Linked DNA regions of Homo sapiens. The protein of the gene in region 2 purifies or fractionates together with the protein of the main gene of each other region. This does not show direct contact. Each region holds a gene or a part of one and is shown on either strand. Other genes may lie near its edges. The genes, in order: NPC1, SIGMAR1 and RNF185.

Evidence for each region.
Region 1: the proteins of SIGMAR1 (region 2) and NPC1 purify together in Homo sapiens (affinity purification with mass spectrometry; 3 studies listed by BioGRID and IntAct, with this or other methods). This does not show direct contact.
Region 3: the proteins of SIGMAR1 (region 2) and RNF185 purify together in Homo sapiens (affinity purification with mass spectrometry; 3 studies listed by BioGRID and IntAct, with this or other methods). This does not show direct contact.

Annotation. Positions count from the first base shown.
Region 1 is NC_000018.10:23,534,507-23,544,100, reverse strand, and holds part of NPC1 (NPC intracellular cholesterol transporter 1 precursor), read left to right. Parts: intron 1-531; coding exon 532-646; intron 647-2,667; coding exon 2,668-2,795; intron 2,796-2,892; coding exon 2,893-3,033; intron 3,034-3,563; coding exon 3,564-3,653; intron 3,654-4,099; coding exon 4,100-4,290; intron 4,291-4,630; coding exon 4,631-4,746; intron 4,747-5,429; coding exon 5,430-5,559; intron 5,560-7,224; coding exon 7,225-7,428; intron 7,429-8,400; coding exon 8,401-8,632; intron 8,633-9,541; coding exon 9,542-9,594. UniProt on the Homo sapiens protein: Intracellular cholesterol transporter which acts in concert with NPC2 and plays an important role in the egress of cholesterol from the endosomal/lysosomal compartment.
Region 2 is NC_000009.12:34,633,279-34,644,344, reverse strand, and holds SIGMAR1 (sigma non-opioid intracellular receptor 1), read left to right. Parts: upstream 1-6,557; 5' UTR 6,558-6,647; coding exon 6,648-6,798; intron 6,799-6,924; coding exon 6,925-7,125; intron 7,126-7,232; coding exon of another isoform or gene 7,233-7,255; coding exon 7,256-7,348; intron 7,349-8,486; coding exon 8,487-8,713; coding exon of another isoform or gene 8,714-8,727; 3' UTR 8,728-9,623; downstream 9,624-11,066. UniProt on the Homo sapiens protein: Functions in lipid transport from the endoplasmic reticulum and is involved in a wide array of cellular functions probably through regulation of the biogenesis of lipid microdomains at the plasma membrane.
Region 3 is NC_000022.11:31,161,813-31,172,350, forward strand, and holds part of RNF185 (E3 ubiquitin-protein ligase RNF185), read left to right. Parts: intron 1-10,538. UniProt on the Homo sapiens protein: E3 ubiquitin-protein ligase that regulates selective mitochondrial autophagy by mediating 'Lys-63'-linked polyubiquitination of BNIP1.

The DNA.
Region 1 (9,594 bases), on a different chromosome or scaffold from region 2:
TGTCTTTTAATAGTATCTTTTCATTTTAAATAGTATCATGTGTACAAGAAGGGCTAACACACTTTTGGAAAAGATTTTGGGTACGACTGCTGTTAAAATGATGTTCAGCATAGTATAGAATGTTAGATTCATTTTGCCCAAAGGTGCCACTAAAAAGGCAAAAGGTCAACACGTGTCCCGCTGCTGTAGAAGGTGGTCTCAGTCGTCCTGTAGACCCGACGTGGGCGGAGACTCAGTGCACGTGAGAGTGATGTTCACTGGTCCAGTCCCCTGCCGCCTGTGTTCCGAGTGTTTTCCTGATAATGTGGCTGGCTCAGCTTTCCCTTTAGTTTCTCACTTGGTACCTAGCTCTGTAGTGCAGAAATACTCTGAGAACATTGGAGTCCCCCACCGAAGTTTATATGCTTAGAAGACACTGCTAATCGTCTACTAATCATTTATTTTTACCCTTGAGTTAACACAAGGCAGCAAGAAATGGCGTTGTTATTGAGAAATTTTAATGTCGCATAATTTTTTTTTTTTTTTTTTAAGAGAGATGAACGTCTTCAAGGGGAAACCCTGGATCAGCAGCTGGGCAGGGTCCTAGGAGAAGTGGCTCCCAGTATGTTCCTGTCATCCTTTTCTGAGACTGTAGCATTTTTCTTAGGTAATTATGCTTTCAATCCTACCAGTCCTGTAGTCTGCTGAGCCTGGAGAAAGAAGGAGCTGGCTACCTGAACATGTCCCTTTGTGTTGCTTCCTTTTTTTTTTTTTCTTTTTTTTTTTTTTCTCTGAGACGGAGTCTCACTCTGCCACCCAGGCTGGAGTGCAGTGGTGCAATCTCGGCTCACTGCAGCCTCCGCCTCCCGGGTTCAAGCGATTTTCCTGCCTCAGCCTCCCAAATAGCTGGGATTAAAGGCACGTACCACCATGCCCAGTTAATTTTTTGCATTTTTAATAGAGATGGGGTTTCACCATGTTGGCCAGGCTGGTCTCGAACTCCTGACCTCAGGTGATGTACCTGCCTCGGCCTCCCAAAGTGCTGAGATTACAGGCGTGAGCCCCCGTGCCCAGCCCGTGTTGTCTCCTTTTTTTAAGCTTTGTTCTGCACTGGGAAAGTATCACTGGACCACAGAAAAATTGGCAGCAGTAACTTAGGTGTGATTTTGCAAGTGGCTTCCTTCTCATTTAACTGTCAGGACAGCATTGATGTTGGGGTTCAGGGTGAAAGAGACCTAGAGTTCGTCTTGCCACTTTCCCCTTTTAGTAGCCACTGGGAATGTTGATAGTTGAAAATGGCATCCTTGAGTAGCCACTGAATCCTTCTCCACATGACACTCTAAGCAGCAGCTCCCAAATCCACAGGCACTCGCTTACAAGATGTTTGCCGTTGTTTTCAAAGGCAGTCTTTCTCTTCTGTGCACACAACTCATTGGGGAAGCAGCCTTGTTAATGACCAGAAGCTCTTGACTCACCACATTACAAGGAGCCAGAATAAGCTGGAACAAAGTCAGCACTTCTGTGTTTCTTTCACATAGAGAATCATCAAATAGACCCACTAGTGGGGCTGTCTGCCCCATGTCTGAAGTGTAGTAAGAGCAAAGTGACTCTGTCCACTATAGGGGAGGCTGGACTGGAATCACTCAGTCCAAAGAAGACCATCCACGGGCCACAAACTGCAATGCCTACATGGCTGGGAGGTCAGCTTAATCAGGGCCATTGTAAGGTCATTGTAGGTGGTAGTCTTTCACCACAGATACACTGCTAGCTTGTTATTCTTCATCTCCACAAAGCCATGTGCTTTTGAAACCTGTAGCCCTGTAGTTCCTTTTGACAAACACAGGTGCAGAAAAAAAAAAAAAAAAGAAAAAACTTTCTTTTTTTCACTACTATTATAAGAAAACCAGTGCAAGTGTGATGATAATAGCAGCAGAGACTGTGCCTCAAGGTTGGAGTGACCTTGGGACAGTAGGAGTGAGTAGGGATTGTGGCACCCCAACTGCACGTGTCCTATCTAAAAAGACAGTTATGTGTGTGGCCAACCCAGTGCTACAAGGTCTGTGTTGTTGTTGTTGTTTTTCTTCCAAGCAAAGCTGTGAATCTAGATTTTTGTGTAAAATGCCATTGTTAAATATTGGCAACTTATAAAAAAAAGTTTTTTAATCTTAAGATGGGTTGATACAGTGTGGGCTAAACAGGAACCATCTGATTCATGGGCTGCCAGTTTGCAGTTTCCAAGTCTTACCCTCATGCCTTTGATCCTCACTCGATTGTAGATTACCTCTTAACTAAACTGGGAGGCTAGTAGTGTTGATGTAATAAATGGAAAATACTGTCCATTTCTTACAGTGAAGCACAGAAAGTACTATAAGAAATGGCCTGTATTAGTGGTTCTCAAATTTTAATGTGTGTGAATTTGCTGTGAACCTGAGTATAGTAGAATTGGGGTTGAATTCCTGTCATAACTAGGATGGGGCTTCCCAAATGGTCTGGTGCTGAGTGTGCTTTGAAAAGCACTGGCTTATCACCTCCTGTCCCACTTCTGGTGTAATGTCCAGCCGCAGCATGCCTTCTCATGCGTTTGGCCTGTGCTGGCTCCTTGTATCTGTACATGCACATGAACATAAGACCTGCAGAGAGCCCCCGGCTGTAAACAGAAGTGACGCAGAGCCCTTCTCTCCCCGACAGGAGCATTGTCCGTGATGCCAGCCGTGCACACCTTCTCTCTCTTTGCGGGATTGGCAGTCTTCATTGACTTTCTTCTGCAGATTACCTGTTTCGTGAGTCTCTTGGGGTTAGACATTAAACGTCAAGAGGTAAGTTGGTGCCAGGATTATAGTCTATTTAATTTGAGTCTAGAATCTAGAGGAAGCAGCTAGCGGGTATAACCTTTGTTTCCCTCTGTCCCCTCAGAAAAATCGGCTAGACATCTTTTGCTGTGTCAGAGGTGCTGAAGATGGAACAAGCGTCCAGGCCTCAGAGAGCTGTTTGTTTCGCTTCTTCAAAAACTCCTATTCTCCACTTCTGCTAAAGGACTGGATGAGACCAATTGTGGTATGCGCTTATCTGTGGTTTTTCTCTTTCCTCTCACTGAAACAGATTATCACATGCCTTCTAAGAAGCCAGACAGCCTGGGAAGGAGATTCTTAAAGCTGTTAAAATGTATCTAAAAAAAAAGCAAAAGCAAATGTGGAACAGTAGATAAAATGTTTTTCCTGTGAGCTTTTATCAGTCCATATAAACAAGAGTTTTAAGTTTTTTATTTTGAAATAGTTTCAGATTCACAGAAAGTTGCAAAGAAACTTTTATTTTTCCTCTTAATAATGAGGAAATAGAAGCCAAGAGAGGTGAAGTGGTTTGCCCCAAGTCACTCAGCCCGTAAGTGGCAGAGTCAGGATTTGCACCCAGGAATTTGGACTCCTGGTGCTGTGGTCTCACCCACTGCCCTGTACTCCCTATTAGCCTGTCATTTAAGCTTTTCCATTTTAAAAAATCCTGCTTTTTGTGTGTGCTTAAGATTTTATTTCTGGTCGTAAGCTTATTTACTAAGCAGTCTCTGTCTTATGATTCATTTGTTGTTCCAGATAGCAATATTTGTGGGTGTTCTGTCATTCAGCATCGCAGTCCTGAACAAAGTAGATATTGGATTGGATCAGTCTCTTTCGATGCCAGATGTAAGATGACTTCCTTTTTTTTTTTTTTTTAACTTCTTTAGCTGATGATGAATACATTTTTCAAAACATGCACGTAGGTGTTTCAAGCAAGTGCCTGCTTCTAACTGCAAATGGTGACAGGGTTTCCAGGGTTAGGAGAACTGTCGCAGTGCACTGCTGGTGTGGGCTGTCTGGCATTCTGACTGAGCCCCTCTGGGCACAGCTGCAGAACACGAATAACTAGTCTTATGAGGTTACTTTATGAGATGCTCTCCTGATTGTGGGGCTAGCAGGAGGAGCACCCTGGGGCCCTGGGGGGAAGACTGGTGGTGTTAGGAATCATGAGTCCAGCTGGAGGCATCTCAGCCAGGAACCTCCTGGCACCCTCTTATTCTCCATGATCCTCGCCTTGCTTAGTTACTATCAGAGTGTTCACACTCTCTCCTATTCTTTTATCTTTCTTTCAGGACTCCTACATGGTGGATTATTTCAAATCCATCAGTCAGTACCTGCATGCGGGTCCGCCTGTGTACTTTGTCCTGGAGGAAGGGCACGACTACACTTCTTCCAAGGGGCAGAACATGGTGTGCGGCGGCATGGGCTGCAACAATGATTCCCTGGTGCAGCAGATATTTAACGCGGCGCAGCTGGACAACTAGTCAGTACCACCTTGTCTTGTACTTCAGAAGCAGCGGAGGAGGCTCTCAGCCAGGCAGTCAGCTCAGGCCTGAAATGTCTCACTGAAAATAGACTTTCTTGGAAAAGTTGTTTTTATGCAAAATGTATGTTAAATCTGGCTTTACCTTAAAAAACCTTTGAAAGGACTAATTTACCACCTAATACTTTGAAGGCTTTTTTCATTAAGTGCTCATGTAGTTTTTCTTTTGACTGTTAGCAGTATAAAACGTAGAAAAGGAAGTTAGGTTTTAAGAAAAAGTACTGAAACTAAAGACTTCCTCCCTGTGGAGCAGGTCAGTAACCCTGTCTGTCCTCTCTAGTACCCGAATAGGCTTCGCCCCCTCGTCCTGGATCGACGATTATTTCGACTGGGTGAAGCCACAGTCGTCTTGCTGTCGAGTGGACAATATCACTGACCAGTTCTGCAATGCTTCAGGTACCTTCTCCTTTACCAAATCTTTCCTGTTTTGCTGAAAAATTTTCAAATTATCATTTAAAAATCATTTGCATCGTGCCTCAGTTTATACCTATTTGTATATCAAAGCTGGGTCTCCCTGTGTCATCATTCCTTTCCTCAGTCATTCATTCTGAAATTGTCATGTTGTTCCTGGCTCAGACAGCCACCCTCGGGGCTGCAAGCTGAACAAGGTCCACATGTTCGGAGTGTGGTTTCCACATAAGGTTTCTCATCCTGTTCTAACTCCAGCGATTGCCTCTCAGGATTGGTATCTGGCCTTAGCTTCTCAGAGGAGGGCTTTTCTTTATCACTTTACCCTGTGGTTTTGTAGGAGCGTCGAGGTTGCCCTGGAATTTTCTTAATAAAAACATAGAAGCCCCGGGCTCTGACCAGTCAAGGCCATACTTGAAGGAGGAGATCTACTTCAGGGCAGAAAATGATGCATAGTATGCCTAAGATGAAAATGGTATTTCAGATTCATTAAACTGTGAAAGTGACATGTGGCTGAAGCTTTTAGATAAGGGGAAAGATTATCCCTCACTAGTAAGGAAAGTAATCGATAGAGAAGAAAGTAATGCCCCTCACTGTCAGTATTTTAAAATGTTTTACAAAAAATCTGGAGACCTATTCTTCTAACAGTCCTCCCTGCATGTCTCCGCCAGTGGTTGACCCTGCCTGCGTTCGCTGCAGGCCTCTGACTCCGGAAGGCAAACAGAGGCCTCAGGGGGGAGACTTCATGAGATTCCTGCCCATGTTCCTTTCGGATAACCCTAACCCCAAGTGTGGCAAAGGGTAAGTGCTGCTGCCATTGCAGATAAGCATCCACTGCAACTTTAATTTGCAGTAGAAAACTAGGAGAGGACTGGGCTAAGACAGTTGCATGGGAACGTCTCTTCTCCGCCCCACCCTGTCCTGGTCCTTTGGTGGAAGCAGGAAAACCGAAAACACCTTTTTAAGAAAATGCCTCATAGTGTTCAACTGATTCTGTCTTAGCGTGGGCATTCACATCTCATGCTCTCTCTGTGTCCTGGCCCCCTGGGCATGAGAATGAACGCAGATTCCTGTGCACATTCCAAGCGGGGCTGAGGGAGAGGACGGCCTGCTGGTAATCCAGGCCTGAAGGAACTTGGCCTGTTCACTTGTACTGATGGCAGCTGGGGCGTGATCTTAGCTTTAGTAACATTATCCCACATTAAGGTTGCGATTCTTTTAGCCTCGTCATGCTCCTTGCCAGCCCATCCATGTATAGGGTTATGGGCTATCTCACTCCCCCATCCAGCCAGGCAGCCAGTTACCCACGGAAGCCAGATATATGGCCCAAAAATAGTGATGATGACCGGAAGTCTCTGGCCTTGATTTGGAAGCTTTGGGAGGTGGAAGATGAGTATCCCCATGTATGTTAGGTAAACCCTGAACTTAGGTTTTTCATAAGAACATACATCTGACCAGAGTCATATCAGTGAATCATTTATATCATGCATGTGCTTTGAGACCTATTCGAGGTATCATGGGATGACTCCTCCTAAAAGTTAAGTAGAAATGAATCTTGCAGCTTGATTTACTCACTGACTGGATGCTTTGGCCTACGTAAAATAAGTTGAAGTAGATTCAGTTTTTCTGAAGGCAGTAGCCACCGTTCCTGGGGAGCCTCCAGGGTGCCAGCGTCATGCCAGGCACTCCCTGACATTATTCCATTTCTCATCACGCAGCCTATGAGTAGGTGGTGGTATACCCATTTACAGAAGAGGAGACTGGGGCTCAGAGGTGGTCATTTTGCTCGGGGTTACATGACCAGTAAGTGGCAGGGCTGAGGTTGTTCCCAGGGCCCTTGCCCTTTCCTGCTTCCTATTACACAACAGGACTGAGTAAACCCTGTACCTTTGATTATACATGAAACCAGGTGGAGAAACAGCAGCTATGTACCAAAGAACCCAGAGCAATCGAGAAAAGCCCATCTGGCCAGGCGAAGTGGCTCACACCTGTAATCCCAGTACTTTTGGAGGCCGAGGTGGGCGGATCACCTGAGATCACCTCAGGAGTTCAAGACTAGCCAGGCCAACATGGCAAAACCCTGTCTCTACTAAAAAAATACAAAAGTTAGTTGAGCGTGGTGGCAGGTGCCTGTAATCCCAGCTATTCGGGAGGCTGAGGCAGGGAGAATTGCTTGAACCCGGGAGGTGGAGGTTGCAGTGAGCCGAGATCACGCCACTGCACTCCAGCCTGGGCTACAGAGCAAGACTCTGTCTCAAAATAAAAAAAAAAAGAAGCCAGTCTGGGAGAGAACAAGCTAAACCTTTGGTGTTCCCTTATCTGGGGGCCTTCTTCATCCCTGAAATGTACAGCTGGGTCTGACCTCTGAGTCCAGGGTCAGGTGATTTTGCTTAGCCTCAAGTGCTCAGATTCTGCTGATATTTTGCAAGACCTGGACTCTCTTGACACCCAGGATTCTTTCCTCAGGGGACATGCTGCCTATAGTTCTGCAGTTAACATCCTCCTTGGCCATGGCACCAGGGTCGGAGCCACGTACTTCATGACCTACCACACCGTGCTGCAGACCTCTGCTGACTTTATTGACGCTCTGAAGAAAGCCCGACTTATAGCCAGTAATGTCACCGAAACCATGGGCATTAACGGCAGTGCCTACCGAGTATTTCCTTACAGGTAAAGCCTGCCCTTTTTCAATGGGGTTTACCCAGCAAAGGGCCTACACTGGGTGGGAGTGGGGAGGGTTCCCTTGGCAAGATGCTGATTTTCAGGTTGGGTTCTGGCCCCTGCTCCATTCTGAGCACAGGGCAGTATATCAAAGGAAATGGGTGCTGGGCAAAGGAGTTCAGAATCTAAAGTCTCTGTGAAGGCCTGAGGGCTAGAGACGCAAAACTTGATCTCTGCGCCACTGCACAGCTGCAAGAGACACACACTGGAAAATGGCTTAAGGCAGGGGGCGCTTGGAGAGCAGGCGGCTCAGAGCAGGGCCCGGCCCACATTCTTGGCCAACAATGAACCAGAATCCCTAACTGCTGGTTATTTGGGATGCTGCCTGTATGTAGACTTTTTATATTGTTAGGGGTTTTTTTTCCCAGGAAGAAAAGTATTATGTATGAACTACTGAATTTAGAAACTGTAGAAAGGTAGGAGAAACAAGTGATTTATTTTTCCTGCCTCCCCATGATCTCGCTTAAAGCAGGAAGGCCTGGATTTGTTTGGAAGAAGTTAAGAGCCGGTTAGCTCTGGCAGAAAATAAATGAAAGCATGTTTTCCTCAGGCCTTGCACGGACCCCGCTGAGCCTGAGGTAGTGTCTCAGGATAGATCAGGATTCTTTGTTTTTTTGTGTTTTTTCAGAATGCTGTGGAATGCTCTCTGTAAATGTCTATAAAATAGCATAGATTGGGCTTATAAACAGAAACTTTATCAAAAATATACATTTTGCATCACTGCTGGGCCCTTCTCTGGGTGGTCAGTGGCCATGAGAGGTCAAGTGAGTTGCTTTCGGTGAGTCTTGTAGACAGCCAGCAAGGTTTTCTGCAAGGGATGTTTCCCAAAGGAGTCTGACCACTTGGCAGTGGTGACAGGATGAACACGCAGTGTTCGGGAGTGAGAGCGAGCTTTAATGAGGCCTCCCCTCTCCCCTCCAGTGTGTTTTATGTCTTCTACGAACAGTACCTGACCATCATTGACGACACTATCTTCAACCTCGGTGTGTCCCTGGGCGCGATATTTCTGGTGACCATGGTCCTCCTGGGCTGTGAGCTCTGGTCTGCAGTCATCATGTGTGCCACCATCGCCATGGTCTTGGTCAACATGTTTGGAGTTATGTGGCTCTGGGGCATCAGTCTGAACGCTGTATCCTTGGTCAACCTGGTGATGGTGAGTCCTCATACAGTCTCAGTTTGTCCCTAGCTCCTGTTTCACTTGGGGGAATTGGCTGTCTTAGATTCCATGTAAACCCTAAAGATGGAGTAAGATACCAAGTCTGGCGCTTGCTCTTGGCACACATGGAGAGGCAGGATGAGTGCTGGAGGAGTGCTGGATGGTGGTGGGACAGGGCATAGAGGGAGCGAGCATTGAGTTGGACATCTGGGAGCATAGGCACATTACAGGCAATTTCTGTTCAATTTTTTCTCTTGTCCCATTCCTTGCGGCTATACTAGTATACCTGATGGTGCCTCTGACCATGGAAATGTGATTTCCTGGCCTAGTTCTGGGCTAGTCTGCCTGTAATTTGTTATTCTTTAGAGATTGCACAAGCCTGTAGCCTGATGACAGCAGGATGTTCACTTTTTACTTAGAAAATTGCACCCCGCCCCAGGAGCTCTCCGACCAGTGCCTTTTGCCTCCTATGTGGTTATCAGGTACTTTTAATCATTAAAGATGAGAGCACTTGAGAAGGTATTCATGGAAAATAGAACAGTGTATCCGTACTCTCAGATATGAGCCCTGCTTCAGATAGGGGAGCACTGAGGTCCAAGAAAAGAAGTTGTGACAATGCGCCAGCTCGGTGCGGGTGGGGTGACCTTAACGGGTTCCAGCAATTTCTCCTGGTCAACACAAACGTGCCACAGAAAACCAGGCTTTTGGCTGTGTGTAGAGAGGGCCCCAAAAAGTTCCTGGTACAGTAAGATTGGTGTGATGGAGGCCTTGTAAGTCCAATGGGATGCTTGGCCTCCTCTAGCACCCAGGGTGCCCTGGGTAATTAGCACCCATCCTCAGAACGGGGTGGCTGCCTAGGGTCTTCAACAGGAAGAGAGCCATCCTAAAGGAAGTGCTTTATTTCAGAGCTGTGGCATCTCCGTGGAGTTCTGCAGCCACATAACCAGAGCGTTCACGGT
Region 2 (11,066 bases):
ATATATATATATATATATATATATATATATATATATATATATAATTTTTTTTTTTTAAGACGGAGTTTCACTCTGTTGCCCAGGCTGGAGTGCAGTGGCTTGATCTCGGCTCACCGCAACCTCTGCCTCCCAGGTTCAAGTGATTCTCCTGCCTCAGCCTCCCGAGTAGCTGGAATTACAGGCACCCACCATCATGACTAGCTAATTTTTGTATTTTTTAGAGACAGAGTTTCACCATGTTGGCCAGGCTGGTCTTGAACGCCTGACCTCAGGTAATCTGTCCATCTCGGCCTTCCCAAAGTGCTGGGATTACAGACATAAGTCACCACACCTGGAAAGGCCTGGAAAAGCTTTCTGAAAGACCAGATAGGGGAGGTGTAGGCCCAGATGATCCCAGAAAGCTGTTCCTGGAATGGGGAGCAGAGACCAAATTTGGGGGCTAATCCCTGCTGCCCAGGGTTCTTAGTGAATTGTCGAGTCGGGAATGCCACAGAAGCCAGAACCAATACAAAAACATGTTCCCTCAATCCTGTATTCTCCTCTAGATAATCCTTTCTTTATCCTTAATTTCTCTGCCAAGTTTCTTTTTTTTTTTTTTTTTTTTTTTTTTTAGATGGAGTCTCGCTCTGTCGCCCAGGCTGGAGTACAGTGGTGCAATCTAGGCTCACTGCAACATCCGCCTCCTGATTCAAGTGATTCTCCTGCCTCAGCCTCCCCTGTAGCTGGGATTACAGGCGTGCACCACCACACCCAGCTAATTTTTGTATTTGTAGTAGAGACAGGGTTTCACCACGTTGGCCAGGCTGGTCCCAAATTCCTGACCTCAGGTGATCCGCCTGCCTCTGCCTCCCAAAGTATTGGGATTACAGGCGTGAGCCACCGTGCCCGGCCTGCCAAGTTTCTTAAAAACAGAGGCCATCTTTCTGGTCTCTACTCTTAGCTGCATGGTATATTGTAACACATCTTTTGCCCTATATTTGTCAGGGTAAGTAATCTTAATTGCTGTAACAAACACTCCCAAAACTCAATGGCTTAGCACTACAGTCAATTCTGGGGGTAACAGGGAGCTCTGTTCCAAGCAGTATTTAGGGATCCAGGTGCCATCCATCTAGTAGCTATGCCATGTCCTAGGGTCTCAGAATACTCCACTAGAGATCCTCTATAACTACAGTAATAGACATGGGAAGAAAGAAAATGTAAAGAACTTCAAGCTGGGCATAGTACTATGTGCCTGTAGTCCCCCAGCTCTTGGGAAGCCAGGGTGGGAGATCACTTGAGCCCAAGAGTTTGATACCAGTCTGGGAGTGACATAGCACAATCCTGTCTCTTAAAAAGAGAAAGAGAAAAAAAAAAAAAAGAATTTCAGAGGAGACTTTAGGAGCCAGCCCTAGAAATGTCATACATCATTTCTATCTATATTTCATTGGCCAGAATGCAATCACATGATCCAGAGTAGACTGTGGAATGTAATCTAGCTGTCCAAGAGCAAAAGGAAATGGATTTGTGAATGTATAGCATTGTCTCTGCCACATGCCCCTACTGAGAAGTCTAATGATCATTTCCCATCATCTCATTGAATCTCACCATTATATTTCACTGTGTTAACCCTTCATTCCATCACTCTTTTTTTAATTTTTTTAGATGGAGTTTCGCTCTCATTGCCCAAACTGGAGTGCAATGGCGTGCTCTCAGCTCACCATAACCTCCGCCTCCCAGGTTCAAGCGATTCTCCTGCCTCAGCCTCCCGAGTAGCTGGGATTACAGGTATGCGCCACCACGCCTGGCTAATTTTGTATTTTTAGAAGAGATGGGGTTTCTCCATGTTGGTCAGGCTGGATCTTGAACTGGCAACCTCAGGTGATTCCCCTACCTCGGCCTCCCAAAGTGCTGGGATTACAGGTGTGAGCCACCGTGCCTGGCCCATTCCATCACTCTTGAGAAAGAAAAGAAACTTTTTATCTGAGAAATGCCAGCCTCTTTTAATTATCAGGCCCAGAGAGGCATTAAAATGTGACAGCATGGGCCTGGCGCGGTGGCTCACGCCTGTAATCCCAGCAATTTGGGAGGCCAAGGTGGGCGAATCACGAGGTCAGGAGTTCGAGACCAGCCTGGCCAACATGGTGAAACCCTGTCTCTACTAAAAATACAAAAAATTAGTTGGGCATGGTGGCGGGCGCCTGTAATCCCAGCTACTCAGGAGGCTGAGGCAGGAGAATTGCTTGAACCTGGGAGGCAGAGGTTGCAGTGAGCCAGGATCATGCCACTGCACTCCAGCCCCGGCGACAGTGCAAGAGACTCCGTCTCAAAATAATAATAATAATAATAATAATAATTTTAAAAAGAAAAAAAAAGGCCGGGTGCAGTGGCTCACACTTGTAATCCCAGCACACTGGGAAACCAAGGCGGGCGGGATCACTTGAGGTCAGGAGTTTGAGACCAGCCTGGCCATTATGGTGAAACCCTGTCACTACTAAAAATACAAAAAGCTGAGCATAGTGGCAGGTGCCTGTAATTCCAGCTACTTGGGTGGCGGAGGCAGGAGAATCGCTTCAACCCGGGAGGCGGAGGTTGCAGTGAGCCGAGATTGCGCCACTGCACTCCAGCCTGGGCGACAGAGTATGACTCAGTCTCAAAAAAAAAAAAAAAAAAAAGTGACAGCATGTAACAGCAGTCATATCTCACCTTCCCCCACCCCCATGGAGCCAAATAATTACCCCTTGAAGCCACTTGCTATGTGGGCTCTAAATTGATACCACATAGCCATAAAATGCCATAGTCTAGACACCATAACTCATACCCTATAGTTCAACAAGGTATAGCCAATCACTAATCAATGTTGTTTCTGTAAGCCAATGAGAATTCCTGTTAAACAATTTTGTGTCAGCCCACTCCTTGTCCTCTTTTGCCTTTAAAAACTTGCTTGTGGCTGGGCATGATGGTTCATACCTGTAATTCCAGCACTTTGGGAGGCCAAGGCAGGATGATCCCTTGAGCCCAAGAGGTCAAGGCTGCAATGAGCTGTGATCGTGCCACTGAACTCCAGCCTAGGTAACAGAGCAAGATCCGGTCTCAAAAAATAAAAATAGGCCGGGCGCGGTGGCTCACGCCTATAATCCCAGCACTTTGGGAGGCCGAGGCGGGCAAATCACGAGGTCAGAGTTCAAGACCAGCCTGGCCAACATGGTGAAACCCCATCTCTACTAAAAATACAAAAAAATTAGCTGGATGTGGTGGCAGGTGCCTGTAGTCCCAGCTACTCGGGAGGCTGAGGCAGGAGAATTTCTTGAACTGGGAGGCAGAGGTTGCAGTGAGCCGAGATTGCGCCACTGCACTCCAGCCTGGGCGACAGTGGAGACACCATCTCAAAAAAAATAAAATTAAATTAAGTTAAAATAAAGTGGCCAGGTGCAGTGGCTCACACATGTAATCCCACACTTTGGGAGGCCGAGGAGTGTGGATCACCTGAGGTCAGGAGTTAGAGACCAGCCTGGCCAACATGGCAAAAACCTGTCTCCACTAAAACTACAAAAATTAGCCAGGCATGGTGGTGCACACCTGTGGTCCCAGCTACTCGGGAGGCTGAGGGAGGAGGATAGCTTGAACCTGGGAGGCGGGAGTTGCAGTGAGCCAAGATTGCACTACTGCATTCCAGCCTAGGCAACAGAGTAAGAATCCATCTCCAAGAAAATAAAAAATAAAAATAAAAACCACATATAAAAATAAAAAATGCTTGTATCAACATTCCCCAAGGCAACTTGGAAAAGTGTCCCGAGCAGTCGTTCTCTACCTTGGCCCAAATAAACTCTCTATATTAATTTTGCCTCAGCTTTTTTTTTTCCTCACTGTTGTTTTTGTTTGTGTGTTTTTCTTTTTTGAGACAGAGTCTCACTCTGTCGCCCAGGCTGGAGTGCAATGGTGCAGTCTCCACTCACTGCAACCTCCACCTCCCGGGTTCAAACGATTCTCCTGCCTCAGCCCCCCAAGTAGCTGGGCCAAGTGGGTGGCACGCGCCACCGCGCCCGGCTAATTTTTGTATTTTTTAGTAGAGATGGGGTTTCACCATGTTGGTCAGGCTGGTCTCGAACTCCTGACCACGTGATCCACCTGCCTCGGCCTCCCAAAGCGCTGGGATTACAGGCGTGAGCCACCCCGCCCAGCCTGTTTTGTTTTTTTTGAGACGGAGTTTTGCTGTTTCACACTGAGGCTGCAGTGCAATGGCGTGATCTCGGCTCACCGCAACCTCTGCCTCCTGGGTTCAAGTGATTCTCCTGCCTCAGCCTCCTGAGTAGCTGGGATTACAAGCATGCGCCACCACGCCCAGCTAATTTTGTATTTTTAGTAGAGACAGGGTTTCTCCATGTTGGTTAGGCTGGTCTCAAATTCCCAACCTCAGGTGATCCACCCGCCTCGGCCTCCCAAAGTGCTGGGATTGCAGGTGTGAGCCACAGTGCCCGGCCCCTTTTTCTTTTCTTTTTTTTTTAGAGACAGGGTCTCCCTCTGTTGTCCAGGCTGGAGTGCAGTGGCACGATCTTGGCTCATTGCAACATCCACCTTCTGGGTTCAAGCGATTCTTCTGCTTCAGCCTCCCGAGTAGCTGGGACTACAGGCACCTGCCACCACGCCCGGCTAATTTTTTGTATTTTAGTAGAGACGAGGTTTCACCATGTTGCCCAGGGTGGTCTCGAACTTCTGAGCTCAGGAAATCTGCCTGCCCACCTTGGCCTCCCAAAGTGCTGGGACTACAGGTGTGTGCCACTGTGCCTGGCCCTTTTTTTTTTTTTTTTTTTTTTTTTTTTTGAGGCAGAGTCTCCCTCTGTTGGCTCAACTGCAACCTCCACTTCCCAGGCTCAAGCGATCCTCCCACTTCGGCCTCCTGAGTAGCTGGGACTACAGGTGTGCGCCCCCACTCCTGACTAATTTTTGTACTTTTTGCAGAGATGGGGTTTCACCATGTTGCCAAGGCTGGTCTCGAATACCTGGACTCAAGTGTTCCGTCTGCCTCAGCCTCCCAAAGTGTTGGGATTACAGTTATGAGCCACCTCGCCCGGCCTCAGTTTCTTTCTTTAAGGTCAAAAATGTATGAGGCTACTTTTTTCCAGTTCCTTTATGTTTTATATATATAACCATCACATAAAATTCTCACCATGTGAGGCACTAACTGCTTTATAAATATTAACCCATCTAATCTCATCACAATGAAGATATGTACTATGAGGTAGGTACTTATCTCCATTCCATTTTACAGGTAAGAAAACTAAGTTACAGAGATTTTAAGTAAACTGCCCAAGATCAGACAACTAGTAGGTAGCAGGAGCCAGGCCTTGAACTCAGGCAGTCCAGCTCCAGAGTTTATTTCTTAATCACTGCACAATGCTACCTCTTTTCTCTTTTGTTTCTTTTCCTTTTTGCTTTCTTCTTCCTCTGCCTACCCTTTGCTGTTGGTGCTCTCCAGGGCTCTGTCTTTAGCCTTATCTTACTCTATTCTCTCTCCCTGTGAGATTTCATCCATTCTTAGAGGTTTTCTGTAGACTCTCCAGTGAGATCTCTAAGCTGGGGAGTAGGACCATTGTTTCTAGCCATATCCCTAATGGCCACCACAGAACTTGGCACATACAAGTGCCAACAAAGTATCTGAATGAATGACAACTCCCAGCTCTATCTCCAGACTGGAGCTGAGCTTCGAGACCTGGACACTCAACTGCCCACTAGACATGCAAAGGATGTTAGCCAAATAAGGGGAAAGTGGGGATAGGATAAAGGGGGAAAGAGTATTCCAGGAAGAAGAGATCAAGCCCTGCCAACTCCATTTCCAGAGTTGTTAAGCTCATTTCTTTCTTCCATCTCCACTGACACAGACCTTCCCTCTTACCTGGCCCACAGTCATGGTCTCCCTGACTCATCTTGCTCCCCTCCACTCGACAGTCCTGTGCCACTCGGTGGCAAAATCTAATCCCCTTCCTCCCTTGCTGATAACCCTCAGCTGGTTTACAAGGCCTCCTCTCACATTTTGTGCCGCAGAACAGAGAAGGAATTGTAGGCCCCTGAAGACCCCAAGCTGTCTCTCCTCGGAGGCCTTTGCTCTAGGGGCTGGTCCCTGTGGGCTGGCATGCCCCTTCTGCGAGCTCTTAAAGACACTGCTCAGGTGTCACCGCCTCTGGAATGCCCACCCTGGGGCTCCCAGCTTGAACTGCCTCCTCTCCGCTTCAGTCCTGGTAAAGGCGGGCCTTAACAATCGTTGAGTCCCAGAAGGCTTCACTTCCGGGCTCGTCTGCTTCACCAGCCAGTGAGCTCGGGCGAGCCCGTCCATTCTGGGTCTCACTATCCCCACACCTATCCGTATGTAGAGTGGCGCTAGCTAGGTCAGACCTCGCCTGAAGACCCTGACATCTGCCGCTGGGCGACTTGGCCCCGCCCCCTTGCCTCCCTTGCGCGGCACCGCCCCACTCCTCCGTGCTCCCCCCGAGGAAATGGTTCAACCGAAGGGCGGTGCCAAGGTGCCCGGGCCGCTCCGATTGGTCAGGGCGAGCCGTACCACGGCGGTGGCGGGGGAGCGCTTCGTGGGCAGCCGGCGGGCTCCGAGGCCGTGAGCGCAAAGCCTCAGGCCCCGGCTCCCTCCTGAGCTGCGCCGTGCCAGGCCGCCCGCCGGGATGCAGTGGGCCGTGGGCCGGCGGTGGGCGTGGGCCGCGCTGCTCCTGGCTGTCGCAGCGGTGCTGACCCAGGTCGTCTGGCTCTGGCTGGGTACGCAGAGCTTCGTCTTCCAGCGCGAAGAGATAGCGCAGTTGGCGCGGCAGTACGCTGGTGAGCGGGCAGAGGGCAGGGAGGGGAGCGGCCGGCCTGGGAGCGGAGCCTAGGGTTCCGAAGGCGCCATCCCCGGACCTAGGACCGGTGCCAGCCCTGACTCCGCCGCCCCTCTGCCTCCGCCAGGGCTGGACCACGAGCTGGCCTTCTCTCGTCTGATCGTGGAGCTGCGGCGGCTGCACCCAGGCCACGTGCTGCCCGACGAGGAGCTGCAGTGGGTGTTCGTGAATGCGGGTGGCTGGATGGGCGCCATGTGCCTTCTGCACGCCTCGCTGTCCGAGTATGTGCTGCTCTTCGGCACCGCCTTGGGCTCCCGCGGCCACTCGGGTCAGTGCTAGCGGCGGGCCAGACTGGGAGGCTGGGGTTGTAAAGGGGCCCATGCCCTCCTTTCTGATGTTTGGCTGGGCCATGCAATGGCGCGAATACCCTGATAGTGTCATGTGCGATTGTCACTCAGGGCGCTACTGGGCTGAGATCTCGGATACCATCATCTCTGGCACCTTCCACCAGTGGAGAGAGGGCACCACCAAAAGTGAGGTCTTCTACCCAGGTGGGTAAGAAGGCTCTGTCAGAGAAGTGGGTCCCTTCACGCGGGGGGTGCCCACAATTGCGGGGAGCATGGCATGGAAAAGGAGTGTGTTGGGGGGGCCCTCCTCATGGTTCCCTTCCTCCACCCTCCCATAAGCCACAGGTGATTGGTTGGGGCAGAGCTGAGGGACTCTTGCTTTCCTCTGTCAAGGGGAAACAAAACATAACAACTTCCTATTAAACATGTCTGATTTTTATCTGCCCAGGCACAATTTTGCCCAGACAGTATTCCAACAACTGTTGGGGAGACAATGGGTAATCAGAAATGCTCTCAATACCCCAAAAGACAAGACAGACAGTTATCTTTTTATTTGTTTGTTTTTTGAGATGGAGTCTTGCTCAGTCGCCCAGGCTGGCGTGCAGTGGCGCGATCTCGGCTCACTGCAAGCTCCGCTTCCCGGGTTCACGCCATTCTCCTGCCTCAGCCTCCCGAGTAGCTGGGACTACAGGCGCCCGCCACCACGCCCGGCTAATTTTTTTTGTATTTTTAGTAGAGACGGGGTTTCACCATACCAGCCAGGATGGTCTCGATCTCCTGACCTCGTGATCCACCCGCCTCGGCCTCCCAAAGTTCTGGGATTACAGGTGTGAGCCACCGCGCCCGGCCGCTCCCCTGCCTTTTTTTTTTTTTTTTTTTTTTAATAGTGAAACAATTTACTTAAGAAATAGAGCACTGGACTTCCCAGTATATTTGAGGTTGGGTGTATGCATCGCAGGCATGGTGGTTGAACAGCTACACTTTTCAGATAAAGCCTCACAAGTCCTGGAACTACCCCTTTCCTAGCTACAAGCCCAGCCCAGGTTTAGCTAAATTTCTGCTTGATTCGAGTGAGGCTTGGGAGTGCAGACTTCCATACAGTGGGTCCATGGCCAAGCGAGGTAGCCGTCCATGGCTTCTCCAAAGAGAGGACGTGGGTCAGATGATGCCACAGAACATTTAGGAGTGGCCATCTGGGCCAGCCCAGTGAGGTAGGGCTTTTTGTTTTTCTGAAGCTCCCTCTCCATTCCCCACCCCTAGTTAGTCCATGGGCCAGGGAAGCAGCAGCCATGGAAGGGCAGGGCAGAGCTGGCTTTTCACTTGGGTGCTCCCTGTCCCCCAGGGGAGACGGTAGTACACGGGCCTGGTGAGGCAACAGCTGTGGAGTGGGGGCCAAACACATGGATGGTGGAGTACGGCCGGGGCGTCATCCCATCCACCCTGGCCTTCGCGCTGGCCGACACTGTCTTCAGCACCCAGGACTTCCTCACCCTCTTCTATACTCTTCGCTCCTATGCTCGGGGCCTCCGGCTTGAGCTCACCACCTACCTCTTTGGCCAGGACCCTTGACCAGCCAGGCCTGAAGGAAGACCTGCGGATAGACAGGAGCGGGCAGGCCCGCACATATCCACTTGCTGGAGCCCATGTTTACAGACAGGGACATACACCATGCAGATCCTGAGTTCCTGCTGTATGAGCAGGGATATCCATGCTTATGTATCCAAACACAGAGACCCATGGGAACAAATGAGACACATATAGATACTGAGACCTGTGTGTACAGTAGGACCATGCACTCACACCCATCTGGAGAGGGAGCCCCCGGTATACCAAGGGAGCCAGTTGTGTTCAGACACACACATCACAGCTTGACTCACTAACTGAGGCCTTTCCATAGCTCCACAGCTTCCCACCTCCTCCCCACCAAACCGGGGTTCTAGAGTTAAGGATGGGGGAGGGTATTATACTGCCTCAGTCTGACTCCTCAACCCAGCAGCAATTTGAGGGGATGAGGGGGAAGAGGAGCTGCCTTTTGGAGGCCCCCTTCACCTGCAGCTATGATGCCCTTCCCCTTCTCCCCTGTCCTCACCATATGCCTTATCCCCATTCTACTCCCCTGCTATGCAAGTGCCCCTGTGGCTTGTCCCCAACCCCCTCAGCAACAAAGCTCAGCTGGGGAACGAGAGTAATTTGAAGAATGCTTGAAGTCAGCGTCTTCCATTCCAGAAAGACCCCCATTCTTCCTTTGGGGGTATGATGTGGAAGCTGGTTTCAGCCCAGGACCCACCACTGAGGAGAGGATCTAGACAGGTGGGCCTAATTCCAAGGGGCCCTTCCTGGCCTGGAGAAGGCCTTTTACACACACACAACACATACACACACACACACACACACACATATCACAGTTTTCACACAGCCCCTGCTGCATTCTCTGTCCATCTGTCTGTTTCTATTAATAAAGATTTGTTGATCTGTTCCATCTTTTTGTGTGTCTGAGCAGCCGGAAAAAGCCTCTGACCCCTGGGGACCTCAGGAAGATCTCTCTCTTGCTGTGTGATTCATGGTAGATTTTTTTTTTTTTTTTTTAAGAGATGGGGTCTCCTCTGTTGCCCAGGCTGGAGTGCAGTGGCACAGTGACATGATCATAGCTCCCTGCAGCCTTGAACTCATGGTCCCAAACAATTTTCCTGCCTTAGCCTTATGAGTAGCTGGGACCTTATGAGTAGCAAATGCCACCATGCCTGGTTAGCTTTTTAAATTTTTTTTAGAAATGGGGTCTTGCTATGTTGCCCCGGCTGATCTCCAGCTCCTGGCCTCAAGTGATCCTTCCTCAGTCTCCAGAGTAGCTGAGATAACAGAAACAAGCCACCATGCCTGACAAGACAGTGGCTTTTGACTAGTAGGGACTATATACTTGAGTGTGCCTTAGAATCACCTAAGACACTCTTTGAGTCAGTAACTCAGACTACTGAGCTCCATTGCCAGAGATCAACATGTTCAATAAGATTTCTTCCAACACAGCTGCGAATGCCACAATTTGAGAAATTCAGGGCAGGGTGACCTGGAGTGTGTCTTGGTCTTACCTCTGCCGGTGCAATCCTGGGAACAGTCCTAAGAATCTTCCCCTGGCTGACCACAGGGTGGCAGTGTGCACCCACTTTTTAGCTGAAAGGCATAGTTCTCAGTTGGCTTTTTTTCTGGGCTCCCAGAGTAGTGTCTGCCCCCACCCAAAACAGGAGATCCTCCAGTCTATGGTCTGCCTTCTCCAGGACCCACCACTAATGTGGAGGCTCCCACAATGAAAGGAAGGCACACTACCTGGCAGTATGTGAGGTAGGTAGGGCCTGGACTCAGGTAAGGCAAGAGAGGTGCCTAAAGTGCATTCATTCCCAAAGACCCTGCTCTTGCCTTAACTTCTGCATTTTACACACCAAGCATGCCTCACCCTCGTCCTGGCCCTGTTCTGAGGGTAAGGCATAGATCACTCCTGCTTCTCAGGATTCCTGGTATTTTAAAAATGGAAGAAACATGGTTATAAAAATTAGATATTTTAACATTCTAAAGAACACAAATCCGAAAGACTATATGTATAACTGCATTTAGAAACAACATCAAAAGTCAATTTGTGACTGAATGTGGAGTCCAGGTAAGTTGGCCAACCTGAAACCGACTCTTCACCCCCAATACCACCGTGTCAGGCATAGTAGGCCCTGGCTGGCTCCTCTCCACTCACCCCAGGTTGCAAATCCATGCCTCCTGGGGGATTCCTACTCTGTAACCCAGCTCTGCCTCTAGGCTCAGAGCCCACATGTCAGGGATGACCCAGCTTGCCCTGTCATTCCTCCCAAACGTCCACAAAGGACTAGGCTCCCAGGCCCCTCCTAATCTCTGCTGCTAAATCCGTTGGTCGTTTCATAGTTCT
Region 3 (10,538 bases), on a different chromosome or scaffold from region 2:
ATCATATAAAAACAGTCCTCTTATAGACTTGACTTGCCAGTTCACACACATGACAAGTTCCAGCTTTTTTTTTTTTTTTTTTGAGTATTTAGTAGAGATGGGGTTTCACCATGTTGGCCAGGCTGGTCTCGAACTCCTGACCTCAAGTGATCCGCCTGCCTCAGCCTCCCAAAGTGCTGGGATTTCAGGTGTAAGCCACTGTGCCTGGCCTCTAGCATACCTTTGGTTTTCTAATCAAACATTATTATGTCCTTATTTTGTGCATTACAAAGCTCTGCCTAAATCACTTTTTCAACACCTGCTAGAATGCTTAGGAATGTTTATGTTGTCTTAGGGAGCAGAGGCTCCATATTATGACCCAGTTCTGCTGACTTGCTCCCCCGCCGCCACAAAAGTTAGGGTTGAGCCAAAACTTCCTGCCAGTTATCGACTTGTGTTTCCCAAGATTAAAAAATAAAAAAGTTGTGAAATGCTTATTCAGATGTTATCCAGGTACTGGGTAAAATGATCTTAATTTGTTGGAGTTTTTAGAACTTCTCGATCTAAAAGTTTCCTTTTAAAGAAGTGTCTGAATTGACATTCTCATAAGTATGTTCTTCAGGCCACTGGTCTGAAGAAGTGGCTCTGAAAAAAGGATTTGATGCTAATAATAAGTTTGAGAAAGCCACATACCATTATTCTTTCTTGGAGCTTCTCAATGTGTAATACCACATTAAAACCACTGAGAGGTCCTGCAATAAGGAAATGTGCCTTATAAGCCAAGATAATAACTTGTTCCATTTGTTTAATCTACTTGATGTCAAATCTTTTTTTTTTTTTTAATTGAAGCACACGTTAGCAAATTCTGACCTAGAGTGGGGATCTGCATACTATATATAGGCTGTGAACCAAACCTGGACCTACTGCTTGTTTATATGGTCTGTGAGCTAAGGGTGCTTTTTACATTTTTCTTTCTTTTTTTTTTTTTTTTAAGACGGAGTCTCGCTCTGTTGCCCAGGCTGGAATGCAGTGGCTCCATCTCAGCTCACTGCAAGCTCCGCCTCCTGGGTTCATGCCATTCTCCTGCCTCAGCCTCCCGAATAGCTGGGACTACAGGCGCCCACCCCGATGACTGGCTAATTTTTTGTATTTTTAGTAGAGGTAGGGTTTCACTGTGTTAGCCAGGATGGTCTTGATCTCCTGACCTCGTGATCTGCCCGCCTCAGCCTCCCAAGGTGCTGGGATTACAGGCGTGAGCCACCACGTCTGGCCTGCTTTTTACATTTTTAAATGATGGGAAATAAAAGAAGAATAATATTACATAGGTGACAATTACAGGAAGATAAAATTTCAGTGTTCATTTCAGTCACACCCATTTATTTATATTCATATATATTTACATATTGTCTTTGGGTGCTTTAATGCTACTCAGTGGAGTTGATTACTTCCCATAAAAACCATATGGTCCACAGAGTCTGAAGTATTTACTCTATGGCCCTTTATGGAAAAAAAATTGCCAATTCCTGACCTGCATCGTGTACATTTTTTTTTTTTGAGACAGTGACTCGCTCTGTTGCCCAGGCTGGAGTGCAGTGGCACGAACATAGCCTACTACAGCCTTGACCTCCTGGGCTGAAGCCATCTTCCCACCTCAGCCACCCGAGTAGTTGGGACTACGGGCACACACCACCACACCCAGCTAACTTTTAGGTTTCTTGTAGAGATGAGGTCTCACTATGTTGCCCAGGCTGGTCTCAAATCTCCGAGCTCAAATGATTCTCCTGCCTCAGCCTCTCAAAGTGCTAGGATTACAGGTATGAGCCACCACTCCCAGCCATGTATTGTTTTTTAACTTTTTATTTTATTTTATTTATTTATTTATTTATTTATTTATTTATTTGAAACGGAGTCTCACTCTGTCCTCCAGGCTGGAGTGCAGTGGCGCAATCTCGGCTCACTGTAACCTCCACCTCCCGGGCTCAAGCAATTCTCCTGCCTCAGCCTTCTGAGTAGCTGGGACTACAGGTGCACGCCACCTTGCCTGGCTAATTTTTGTATTTTTAGTGGAGACGGGGTTTCACCATGTTGGCCAGGATGGTCTCAATCTCCTGACCTCAAGTGATCCACCCACCTCAGCTTCCCAAAGTGCTGGGATTACAGGCTTGAGCCACCGTGCCTGGCCCCTTATTATTATTATTATTATTTTTTAGATGGAGTTTCACTCTTGTTGCCCAGGCTGGAATGCGGTGGGACAGTCTCAGCTCACTGCAACCTGTGCCTCCCAGGTTCAAGCGATTCTCCTGCCCCAGCCTCCCAAGTAGCTGGGATTACAGGCATGTGCCACCACACCTGGCCAATTTTTGTATTTTTAGTAGAGGTGGGTTTCACCGTGTTGGCCAGGCTGGTCCTGAACTCCTGACCTCAGGTGATCCACCCGCCTTGGCATCCCAAAGTGCTGGGATTACAGCCGTGAGCCACTGCGCCTGGCCTTTTTATTTTGAAATAATTTTACTCTTATACTAAACTTGCAAAAATAATTCACAAACTTTCTGTATATCTGTCATCTAACTTCACCTAATGTCAAAACTGTACATAATTATATCAGAATTATCCAAACAAGAAATTTAACATTAATACAATATTACTAGCTAATCTAGAGACTTTATTCAGATTTTGCTATTTGTCCCACTGTGTCCTTTTTCTGTTCCAGGACCCAATCCTGGATCCTACATCACATTTAGTTGTCAAGTCTCCCTGGTCTCATCAGATATCTGGGACAGTTCCTCATTGTCTTTTTTTTTTTTTTTTTTTTTTTGAGACGGAGTCTCACCCTGTCACCCAGGCTGGAATACAGTGGCATGATCTCAGCTAACTGCAACCCCCCTCCCGGGTTCAAGCGATTCTCCTGCCTCAGCCTCCTGAATAGCTGCAATTACAGGCGTGTGCCACCATGCCCAGCTGTTTTTTGTATTTTTAGTAGAGTGGGGTTTCACCATGTTGGGCAGGCTGGTCTTGAAGTCCCAACCTCAGGTGATCCACCTGCCTCGGCCTCCCAAAGTTCTGGGATTACAGGTGTGCCACCACACCCGGCCTGCATTTGCACTAAAATTTATTTTTTTTTTAATTGTTTGTTTTTGAGATGGAATTTCACTCTTATTGCCCAGGCTGGAGTGCAGTGGCGCAATCTTGGCTCACCGCAACATCTGCCTCCCAGGTTCAAGCGATTCTCCTACCTCAGCCTCCCGAGGAGCTAGGATTACAGGCATGCACCACCACGCCCGGCTAATTTTGTATTTTTTTTTTTTTAGTAGAGACAGGGTTGCTCTATGTTGGTCAAGCTGGTCTGGAACTCCCGGCCTCAGGTGATCTGTCTGCCTCAGCCTCCCAAAGTGCTGGGATTACAGGTGTGAGCCACTGCGCCTGGCCATTTGCACTAAAATTTATGAGGGTTCCAGTTTCTCCGCATCCACAACACTTGTTATTGCCCACTAAAAAAATTATATCTCTCCTAGTGGGTGTGAAGTGATATCTCATTGTGGTTTTGATTTGCATTTCCTTAATGGCTGATGATGATGATGATGATGTTCTTATTGGCCATCTGCATATCTTATTTGGAGAAATGTCTGTTTAGATCTTTTGCTCATTTTGTAATTGAGTTATTTGTTATCGTGTACAATTTTGAATGTAGGTATTCAAAGAGTTTGCAGATCTCTTGAAATAACTCAGTGATTTGACCTGCAAATTCTGAGGCAATGCCAGTATGTCCCTGATCTGAATGTAGTTGGATTTGGACATACTAAAGCACAAAGTAAATTTCCATTTGAGGCTACTGACCATGCAGAGCTTGACTCAAACCCAGCCACTTCTGGCCATGTGGAGTTGGAGTGGCCATGGGCAAGTGAAAGGAAGGGTACTATTTGCGTCCAGAAATGAGGTTGTCATCCAAGATATGATAAGACTAGTCAGGGAGCCTTCATTTTGGGTGCCACTCTGCTGTATGTCTGGTTATAGGCAGGGAGTAGAGGAGTCAGTGGTGGTTTGAATGCTCAGGACTAGCTGCTCATAGCTACATAACTACAGTGCTCCTAGGCCTATCTTGACCCTACAGCATTTGGCCATAACCAAACCATCTTGGACACATACCTTGAAACAAACAAAAGCTTCAGTAATGTAAATTGTGAAAGTAGTATGTGCTTATTTTATTATTATTTTTTTTTAGAGATGGAGTCTTGCTCTGTTGCCCAGGCTGGAGTGCAGTGGCACAGTGTTGACTCACTGCAGCCTCCATCTCCCAGATTCAAGCAATTCTCGTGCCTCAGTTCCTGAGTAGCTAGAATTACAGGCAAGTGCCACCATGCCCGACTAATTTTTGTATTTTTAGTAGAGATGGGGTTTCATGATCTTGGCCAGGCTGGTCTCGAACTCCTGACCTCAAGTGATCCGCCCACCTCAGCCTCCCAAAGTGCTGGGATTACAGGCATGAGCCACCATGCCCTGCCGATGTGCTCATTTTAGACATTTTGGGAAATACAGAAAAATCTCCCTCTCCCCACCCTAGTCATCCCTAGCTCTAGTATCTAGAGAACCTTTGTTGCAGTTGCTATATTTCCTTCTTGTTTCCTGCTACGGGGCACATTTTTAATAGTTGGAATCACTCACTGTACACAGGTCCATATCTTGCTTTTTCTTATTAACATCTAAAACTGAAGAAAACACACACTTTAATTTTAATGTCTCCATGTTTTTGCCAGCCTCTTCTATAAGCATTTCTTCTTCTTCTTCTTCTTCTTCCCCTTCCCCTTCCCCTTCCCTTCCCCTCCTCCTCCTCCTCCTTCTTCTTCTTCTTCTTCCTCTTCCTCTTCCTCTTCTTCTTCTCGAGACAGAGTCTGGCTCTGTTGCCCAGGCTGGAGTGCAATGGTGCGATCTTGGCTCACTGCAACCTCCACCTCCCGGGTTCAAATGATTCTCCTGCCTCAGCCTCCCGAGTAGCTGGGATTATAGGTGCCTGCCACCATGCCCAGCTAATTTTTGTATTTTTGGTAGAAACGGGATTTCACCATGCTGGCCAGGCTGGTCTCGAACTCCTGACCTCAGACGATCCACCCACCTCAGCCTCCCAAAGTGTTGGGATTACAGGCGTGAGCCACCACACCTGGCCTATAAGCGTTACTTCTGATGGCCTACATAGATTTCCATTTCCTTAACTGTTCATTTATTTAATAAGTCTTACTATGTAGACGTAATGTGTATAATAAGTACTTGGTGTGTTCTTAGTGGGATAGAAATGTAGTTTTGATTTTTAAATAAGGAGCATAGATTTTCTTAAAATTTTTTTTATTGTGGTAAGATGTACATAACAATATTTACTGTTTTAACTAATTTTATCTATTTAAATTTTTTTTGAGATAGGGTCTCACTCTGTGGCCTAGGCTGAAGTGTAGTGGCAACTCACTGCAGCCTCAACCTCTGAGGCTCAAGCAATCCTCTTGCCTCAGCCCCCTAAAGTGCTGGAATTACAGCAGTGAGCCATTGTGCCTGGCCCATTTTAATTATTTTTAAATGTACAATTCAGTGGCATTAAGTAAATTCACAATGTTGTATAACCATCACCACTATTTCTAAAACTTTTTCAGCATACCAAACAGAAACTCTACCCATGAAGCAATAACTCCTCATTCTCTCCTCCCCCCAGCTCCTGGTAACCTCTGATCCACTTTCTATCTGTATGAATTTGCCTATTCTGGATATTTCTAATAAGATTCTAATAAGAAAATCACACAATGTATGACCTTTTATGGAAACGTAGGGGGGTTTTTTCCTTTTTTTTTTTTTTTTTTTTTGAGACAGTCTCACTCCGTTGTCACCCAGGCTGAGTGCAGTGGTGTCATCTCAGCTCACTTCAACCTCCGCATCCTGGGTTCAAGCAATTATTGTGCTTCAGCCTCCCAAATAGCTGGAATTACAGGCGCTCACCACCACACCTGGCTCATTTTTGTATTTTTAGTAGAGATGGGGTTTTGCCATTTGCCCAGGCTGGTCTCGAACGCCTGACCTCAAGTGATCCGCCTGCCTTGGCTTCCCAGAGTGCTGGGATTATAGGCATGAGCCACCGTACCTGGGCCCAGTTTTTTAAATTGTAGTGAAATTCATATAAAATTTACCATCGTAACCATTTTTTTAAATGTACAGCTCAGTGGTATTAAGTACATTCATGTTCTAGAAACATCACCACCATCTACCTCCAGAACTGTTTTCATCTTGCAAAAGTGAAACTCTGTGTCTATTAAACAATAACTCCCTATTTCTTCTTCCCCCTAGCCACTGCCAACCACTATTCCACTTTCTGTCTCTATGATTTTGTTTACTCTAAGTACGTCATATAAGTAGAATCATACAGTATTTGTCCTTTTTATTTTTGAAGATGAGGCCTAACCGTGTGGCTGGTGTCAGACTCTTGGGTTTAAGTGAACTTTCTGCCTCAGCCTCCCAAGTAGCTGGGGTTATGTGTGGGCACCACTGCACCCAGCTTAGTATTTGTCTTCCTTTGACTGACTTACTTCACCTAACATGATGTTCTTGAGGTTCATTTATGTTGTAGCATATGTGAGAATTTTTCTTCCTTTTTAAGATAAAATGATTTTCCGTTGTATGTATTTTGCTTATCCATTCATCTGTCGATGCAAACTTGGATTGCTTCCATGTTTCAGCTATTGTGAATACTGCTACTGTGAACATTGATGTATAGCTATTTCTTTGCGACCTTGCTTTCAATTATTTGGGTACATACCTAGAGGTAGAATTGCTGGATCATATGGTAGTTCAGTTTTTAATTTTTTTGAGGAGCCTCTGTGCTGTTTTCCACAGCAGCTGTACCATTTTACATTCCCACCAACAGAGCACAGGGGTTCTATTTCTCTACATCCTTGCCAAAACTTGTTATTTTCTGGTGTTATAAAAATAGTAGTCATTCTGATGGTATCTCATTGTGCTTTTGATTTGCATTTCCCTGATGATTAGTGATGTTGAGCACCCTTCTGTGTACTTTTGGGACATTTGTATTTCTTCTTTGAAGAAATGTCTCTATTCAAGTCCTTTGCCCCCCCGCCCCACCACCACCCTTTAAAAATTTTTTTTGAGACAGAGTCTCTCTCTCTCTTGCCCAGGCTGGAGTGCAGTGGTGGAATCTGGGCTCTGCAACCTCCACCTCCTGGGTTCAAGCAATTATCTTGCCTCAGCCTCGCACGTAGCTGGAAGTACAGGCGTGTGCCACCACACCTGGCTAATTTGTTTTGTATTTTTAGTAGAGACAAGGTTTCACCATGTTGCCCAAGTTGGTCTCAAACTTCTGACCTCAAGTGATCTGCCTGCCTAAGCCTCCCAAAGTGCTGGAATTACAGGCCTGAGCCACCATACCTGGCCCCACTTTTGAATCAGGTTGTTTGTTGTTAAGTTTTAGGAGTTATCTATGTATTCAGGATATTAATTCCTTTTCAGATATATGATTTGCAAATATTTTCTCCCATTCTGTGAATTGCCATTTTACTCTATTGGTAGTGTCTTTTTATGCACAAAATTTTTAAATTTTTATGAAATCCAATTTGTCTACTTTTTCTTTTGTTACCTGTACTTTTGGTGTCATTCCAAGAAATCATTGCCAGAAATATAGTTTTTAAAGTCATGACCAAGTGGCTCCTGGTTTAAAATTCTCAGAGGCGGCCCTAATTGCTGCCTGGTTATCATACCCTACTTCTCTTTTTTTAATTTTTAGTTTTTTAAAGACAGGGTCTCTCTGTCGCCGAGGCTGGAGTGCAGTGGCGTGATCTCAGCTCACTGCAACCTCTGCCTCCCGGACTCAAGCAGTCCTCCCACCTTTGCCTCTTGAGTAGTTGGGACCACAGGCATGCGCCACTGCTCTTGGCTAATTTTTGTATTTTTTTGTAGAGATGGGGTTTTGCCATGTTACCCAGGCTGGTCTCAAACTTCTGGGCTCAAGTGATCTGCCTGCCTCCACCTTCCAAAGTGCTGGGATTACTGGCTGAGCCACCACACCCAGCCTTCAAACCGTACTTCTCTACTCTGCATCTGCTGTAGATGACAGGAGTCCATCTCTTCATTTCATTGGTCGTTGGGAACAAAGCTCCCGAGTGTTGGATCCTTGTCTTCCAGCTGGCCTAAGGACATGCAAAGATTAGAAGCAGCACTTCTATGTTCATTGAGCCAGATTGTGTCTGCTTCTGTGGAAATGGCCTAGGGGACTCACTGGCCATTCTGTCCTGGGTCCAGTTGCCAGGTTAATTCCTGTGATAGTTTCTATAGCACCTGACTCTGATACTCGCTCTCTTAATTGCTCCTCAGAAGTGCCTTGTGATGTAACAGTGATGTGGTTTTTTGTTTTTTTTTTTTGTTTGTTTGTTTGAGACAGAGTCTTGTTCAGTCGCCCAGGCTGGAGTGCAGTGGTGCAATCTCTGCTCACTGCAAGCTCCGCCTCCCGGGTTCATGCCATTCTCCTGCCTCAGCCCCCCGAGTAGCTGGGACTACATTTGCCTGCCACCAGGCCTGGCTAATTTTTTTCGTATTTTTAGTAGAGACGAGGTTTCACCATGTTAGCCAGATGGTCTCGATCTCCTTACCTTGTGATCCACCCGCCTTGGCCTCCCAAAGTGCTGGGATTACAGGCATGAGCCACCACCTCTGGCCAGATGTGGTTTTTATTTTTTATTTATTTTATTTATTTATTGAGACAGAGTCTCACTCTGTCACCCAGGGTGGAGTGCGGTAGTATGATCTCAGCTCACTGCAACCTCCACCTCCAGGGTTCAAGCGATTCCCATGTCTCAGCCTTCCAAGTAACTGGGATTACAGACATGTGCCACCACACCCAGCTAATTTGTATTTTTTAGTAGAGATAGGGTTTCACCATGTTGGCTAAGGTGGTCTCGAACTCCTGACCTCAGATGATCCACCCACCTTGTACTCCCAAAGTGCTGGGATTACAGGTGTGAGCCACCACGCCTGGCCAGGTTTTTATTTTTTAATATTTATTTATTTATTTTTGAGACAAGGTCTTTGTATGCTGCCCAGGCTGGTCTCAAACTCTTGTCCTCAAGCAATCCTCCTGCCTCAGCCTCCTGAGTAGCTGGCATGTTCCACTGTGCCTGGCATGTGGGGGTTTTTAAAGATGGACAGGTCTCTGAATACAGGAGTGGATCCTGGGCAAAGCCTAAGGAAGTTTGTTGTTTTTTCTTAACACTATCATCTCTGCCAAGGCACTTCTTAGTGTGAGAAGCTTTTTGTTTTTTAATAGTTACATTCTGACTTGGTTATAAACTCCTTGAGCACAGGAACCAGGACCTTCTCTGATTTACTTATTTATTTATTTATTTATTTATTTATTTATTTTTGAGACAGAGTTTTGTTGCCCAGGCTGGAGTGCAATGGCGCCATCTTGGCTCACTGCAACCTCCGCCTCCTTGGGTCAAGTGATTCTCCCGCCTCAGCCTCCCTAGTAGCTGGGATTACAGGCGCCCACCACTATGACCAGCTAATTTTTTTTTTTTTTTGGTGTTTTTAGTAGAGACAGGGTTTCACTATGTTGGCCAGGCTGGTCTTGAACTCCTGACCTCAGGCGATCCACCCGCCTTGGCCTCCCAAAGTGCTGGGATTACAGGCGTGAGCTACTGCACCCAGCCCTGATTTATTTTTATCATGGGTCTGGTAGTTGGCATTCTCTAAGTGTTTGCCAAACAGCACTGGTAACAAATACAATGGAGGTGGCTCAAGGCACAAGAGCAATTTGTAAAAGTCAATATTATAGACTTTTCAAAATGGTATCATTTTGGTTTTATCTTTAATCACAGTTGGTCCTAGTCAGGACCTTCTGTTGAAAGAAGTGAGAGGCTGGGCATGGTGGCTTGTGCCTGTAATCCCAGCACTTTGGGAGGCCGAGGCAAGCGGATCACCTGAGGTCGGGAGTTTGAGACCAGCCTGACCAACATGGAGAAACACCATCTCTACTAAAAATACAAAATTAGCCAGGTGTGGTGGTGCATGCCTGTAATCCCAGCTACTCAGGAGGCTGAGGCAGGAGAATCGCTTGAACCTAGGAGGCGGAGGTTGCGGTGAGCCAAGATTGCGCCATTGCACTCCAGCCTGGGCAACAAGAACGAAACTCCATCTCAAAAAAAAGAAAGGAGAAGTGAGATCATTGTTTTGTCAAGTATATACCGGGTATTAAAATTTAAAAAGTTTTCTACTTAATTGGTTAGATCTTGTCAAACTTATTGTTTTTATACTCTACCTTCAGAATATCTTAGAGGTCTTTAGCTCAACCTCAGGTAAAATATGAATTAATGACATTTTATAGAATATGAATTAATGAGATTTCACTGACTGTGTGAAAATAAAAGTGAAACCTGGCCAGGTGTGGTGGCTAATGCCTGTAATCCCAGCATTTTGGGAGGCTGAGGCGGGCAGATCACTTGAGGTCAGGAGTTCGAGACCAGCCTGACCAACATGGCGAAACCCTGTCTCTACTGAAAATACAAATAAATTAGGCAGGC